Linked DNA regions of Homo sapiens: region 2 is linked to region 1. Evidence: fine-mapped expression QTL. Tissue or cell type: pancreatic islets. Region 1 holds a variant in brackets; the other region holds the start of a gene. All regions are shown on one strand. Distances are between the middles of the regions.

The links. PIP is the estimated chance that this variant, and not a neighbour inherited with it, causes the effect.
Region 2: EFHD1 starts here. The variant in region 1 is fine-mapped to the expression of EFHD1 in pancreatic islets (PISA, PIP 0.95).

Annotation. Positions count from the first base shown.
Region 1 is chr2:232,657,047-232,659,546 of GRCh38, forward strand. All of the region lies in intron 1 of EFHD1 (EF-hand domain family member D1), which reads left to right. Among named protein-coding and RNA genes, the nearest start is that of EFHD1, 25 kb to the left of the region's middle. The variant AGCCT/A (reference allele first, on the strand shown) is at 1,343.
Region 2 is chr2:232,632,481-232,634,980 of GRCh38, forward strand. It overlaps EFHD1 (EF-hand domain family member D1), which reads left to right and starts at 1,124. Exons shown (of 4, transcript NM_025202.4): 1 at 1,124-1,526. The coding sequence starts at 1,225. RefSeq lists silencers at 1,162-1,221, 1,299-1,593.

The sequences.
Region 1 (2,500 bases):
TGGGATAACAGGCAAGCCTGACTGCACCCAGCAAAATTCACCATTTTTAACCATTTTTAAGTATAGAGTTCAGTGGCAACAACATTGACATTATTATGCAACCATCACTGTCATCCATTTCCAGAATGTCTTCACCCTCCTAAACTGAAACTCTGTCCCCATTCAACACTAACTCCCCATTCACCTCCCCAGCCCTTGACAGTCACCATTCTACTTCTGTCTCGATGATTTTGACTACTCTAGGGACCTGATAAGTGAATTCATACAATGAGGTGCCCTTTTTGCGACTGGCTTATTTCACTTGGCACAATGTCTTCAAGGTTCACCCATGTTGTAGCCTGTGAGCATGGGTCAGAGTTCACTTCCCTTTCATTGCTGAATGAAATTCCATTGTTTGTATAGATCACATTTTGTCAATGGGCATTTGAGTTGTTTCTACCTTTTGGTGACTGTGAATAATGCTGCTAAGAATACTAGTGTCAGCCAGGCATGGTGGCTCACGCCTGTAATCCCTGCATTTTGGGAGACCGAGGCAGGCGGATCACCTGAGGTCAGGAGTTCGAGACCCACCTGGCCAACATGATGAAACCCTGTCTCTACTAAAAATACAAAAAATTAGCCGGCCATGGTGGTGGGCGCCTGTAATCCCAGCTACTCGGGAGGCCTGAGGCAGGAGAATCACTTGAACCCGGGAGGTGGAGGTTGCAGTGAGCTGAGATCGCACCACTGCACTCCAGCCTGGGCAACAAGAATGAAACTCCATCTCAAAAAAAAAAAAAGAATACTAGTGTCCAGACTCCATTGGATCCTATGGTAATTCTTTGTTTAGGACCTTGCATTTTTCTTTCTTTTCTTTTTTTTTTTTTTTTTTTGAGACTGAGTTTCACTCTGTCACTCAGGCTGGAGTGCAGTGGTGCGATCTCGGCTCACTGCAACCTCTGCCTCCCAGGTTCAACAGATTCTTCTGCCTCAGCCTCCTGAGTAGCTGAGATTACAGGCATGCGCCACCATGCCTGGCTAATTTTTTTGTATTTTTAGTAGAGACGGGGTTTCACCATGTTGGTCAGGCTGGTCTCGAACTCCTGACCTCAGATGATCCACCCACCTCGGCCTCACAAAGTGCTGGGATTATAGGCATGAGCCACTGCACCCAGCCAGGACCTTGCATTTTTCTTTGCTATATTTTATCTGTGGACATCACACCAGCTTGCTGAGATCTTTTGGGCCTAGATTCTGCCCCAACTTTGTGTCACCAGCGAATCTGAGAGTCAGCACCCTTTCCAGGTGGCTTTAACTAACAGCCAGTCCGCCTAATTGTATCCATACTTCTCTTCCCCATAAG[AGCCT/A]GCCTGCTAGAGGGCGTTGCTCACCCTGAGTGGTAACATCAGGTCAGCTGTGGTTTTCTGTTAGATCAACTTGACAGTAACGTTTCACAACTAAATAAGCATGTGACCCAGCATCCAATCTTGGGTATATACACGAAAAAATGGAAATATATGTCCAAACACTTGTATATGAACGTTCAAAGCAACACTATTCATAAGAGCCAAAAGGTGGAAACAACAAAATGTCCATCACCTGATGAGTGAAGAAACGAAGTGTGGTATATTGATACAGTGGAATATTGTTGGGCTACAAAATGTCCACAAGAGGCAAATCCATACAGACAGAAAGGCTAGTAGTTGCTGGGGGATAGGGGTGGCAAGGGGAGAGTGGGGAATGACTGCTAATGGGTATCAGTTTCTTTTTAGGGTGAGGCAAACGTTCTGGAATTACATGGTAATGATGTTGGCACAACCTGAATATACTAAAAATTAATGCACTGTACAGTGAATTTTATGGTATGTTAATTATATCTCAGTAAAGCTGTTTTTTAAAAAAAACTTAGAAAACAGGGAAGTGAGGTCCATCCTCAAGTCATTTTCAGTGAACCCATGGAAATTGTTGCTTCCCTTCTTAAAGTGCTCACAAACCGTCCTCTGGCAACACTAGATCCTGGGCTGGTGCATCTGTGATTCACATACTCTGCCCACTTCTGGGAAACCCAGAAGCACCTTGCTTGTTTCCAGATCTGGAACACCTGTCTCATCCTTCACGGTTCCTCAAAGCTCACCAACAGCCACCCAGCGATCTTGTCTGTGTCCTTTAGTGCTTTGCAATGTAGCTCTGCCAGCAAGGAGGCTGCACTGAGCACAGAGCTGCTTGAGTAAGAAGTAGCCAGCATACTGTTAAAGTGAGGGCACTGAGAAAAAAAAAAACACAAGAAATAAAAATAGAAGCACCCACCAGAGGAAGGTGGTGAATGCTAAGTCCCGGAGAAGGATGGACAGTGGGTGCTATTGGAGAGCTGTGGGGGAAGCAGGTGGCTCCCTGAGCTCCTGGGCACAGGAGGACCATAGAGGAGGGCAGGGAGGGGGTGGCTGGGTGAGAGGAATGGCACAAGTTGGCCACTGTGGCTGGAAGGGAGCCTGTCAGGGATTCCTGGGCCTCCTCTCCAGCC
Region 2 (2,500 bases), 25 kb before region 1:
GCCTGGCTGATGTAACAGCGGCATCAGCCTTCCTTGGGGAGAATGACGACTGTATTTGTTTTTACCCTCTTGTTAAAAATGCTGATTTAATTTTCAAGCTTCTTTTCCTTCTTTCCTTTCTTTTTTCCTCCCCCTCTCCCTCCTTCTTCTTCGTTTATTTTTAGAGCCAGGGTCTCACTCTGTCGCCCAGGCTGGAGTGCAGTGGCCTGACCATGGCTCGTTGCAGCCTCGACCTCCCGGGCTCAAGCCATCCTCCTACTTCAGCCTCCTGAGTAGCTGGGACTACAGACGAGCGCCACTATGCCTGGCTGATTTTTTAAAAGTTTTTGTAGAGACAGTCTAACTATGTTGCCCAGTCTGGTCTCGAACTCCTGGGCTCAAAAGATCCTGCCACCAACACCTAAGTGTTGGGATTGCGGATGTGAGTCTCCGCGCCAGGTTTCTTCTCTTTTCTTGTGCGTTTCACGCAAAAAAACCCGAGTCCCTGAAGCTACGCTGCTTTCCTGCCTCTAGGGAAAACGGGAGTTTTTTCTGCTCGTTTGCTCTCTCTCTTTTTTGTTTGCTTATTTGTTTTTAGTATTTTTAGCATGTTTTGGAAACATTTCGTTCCAATGAGTGTTTGAAAAGCAGCTCCCCCGCCCCACGCTCCGGGCGGGCGCCTCCCACTCCCTGACCCCGGGGAGGGTGGGCACCACTCCCAGACGCGGGGGACGCGTGGGTGTCGCTCGGGGGCGCTCGCCTCCCCCACCCAGCCTGTCCCGGGCCGCGAGCGCTTCCAGTCGGGTTACTTCTGGGGGACAAGAAAGGCACCGTCTGAACGGTCGAGACGCTTTTTCCCGCTACGGTTTTCCCCGGAGCTGACAGGGGCAGCAAGGTCGGAGTTGATCCGAGGGTCCCTGCCTGGTCCCGGGGGGACGGTCAGCCTCCCGCCCGGAGCCGCGGGGAGAGGAAGCAGGTCGGGGTCTCCGGGACGCGCAGACACCCAGACACCGGCGGCCTCCTCCCACCAGGCTGGCAGTCGCTGAGCCCTGGCGCCTCCTTAAAGCCGCAGCTCCGCCCCGACCGCCCCGCCCGCCAGTCCGTCCTCAGACCCTCCCAACCGCCGGGTCCCCGCCGCCTCGGCGGAGTGTTGTAGAGCCTCGAGCCTGCGAGGAGCGCGCCGCCCGCCAGCTCCCTGCGTCCCGTCCCGCGTCCCCGCGTTCCCGCGTCCTGCGATCCGCCGCCATGGCCAGTGAGGAGCTGGCGTGCAAGCTGGAGCGCCGGCTGCGGCGCGAGGAGGCCGAGGAGAGTGGCCCCCAGCTGGCTCCCCTCGGCGCCCCAGCCCCGGAGCCCAAGCCCGAGCCCGAGCCTCCCGCCCGTGCGCCCACGGCCAGCGCCGACGCGGAGCTGAGCGCCCAGCTGAGCCGGCGGCTGGACATCAACGAGGGCGCTGCGCGGCCCCGGCGCTGCAGGGTCTTCAACCCCTACACGGAGTTCCCGGAGTTCAGCCGCCGCCTCATCAAGGACCTGGAGAGCATGTTCAAACTGTGAGCTCCCGCTGCGCGCCCTTCGCCCCCGGGACCAGGGAGGGAGCGGGAGGGCTTTCTGGTCCGAAGTCCCGGGCCCTGTTTGTGTGGGGAGGGGTCCCGGGGTGCAGGTAGCATTTGGCCCAACGCAGCCAGATCTTGCGTGCTCGGGTCTATCTCGGCGCGGTGGGGGACGGGGCCGAAGAGGGGGGACACCAGGAGCAGGAGCTCTCCGGGACGGAGCCCAAAAGTTCTCGGCGGCTGCCGGGCCCGAGTTCCAGGTCCCCCAACCCCGACCACTGGTCCCGCCCCCTCCGCCCGCCAGTCCGGAGATTTGCTCCGAAAGCAACTTCTAGGAAAGGGAGCCGTCGCCGCGCCTCACCTGCCAGCTTTCACTGTATCCCCCCAAGGGAAAAATTAGCCCCTGTTGGCCTTTTATCTTTTAAAACAAAAGGGGAAAGTTAATCCTTGGCTGCAGCGCGGGGTCTGATGAATGAGCGGAGGCCGAGAACGGGGAGTTTGGTAAAGTCGTTGTAAGAGATTCAGGACTTTCCTGGAGCAGGCGCGGCCCGGGAGCCTCCTGGGGGCGCGGGGAGGGGGGGCGGTTGTGGGAACCGAACTTGGCCGCTGGCACCGGTCCGGCGGGGGCTCGTTGCGGTCCTGCTCTGTGAGCCCCAGTGCGCGGGGAGCCGCTCACCTGGGGAGACACTGAGCCAGAGGCAGGCGATAGAGACCCACTAGTCCACCTCGTCGCCTGGAACCTCCGGGGATCTCAGTTTCCTCATCTGGAGAGTGGGAGCAGTAACAGTCCCTGCCTTTTAAGGCCGAAAAGTATTTTGCACCCGGTAAGCTCTTAACCGAGCTATTAATATTTCCAGAATTGAGCCGAGACCGGAAAAATGCCTGGGGGAGCTGAGGCCGCCGGCCAGGTCATGCTTGGGCGTTTTTAAAAGCGCATGGAATGTGTTTGCCCTCCGCGTGGAGGTTCTATTTAA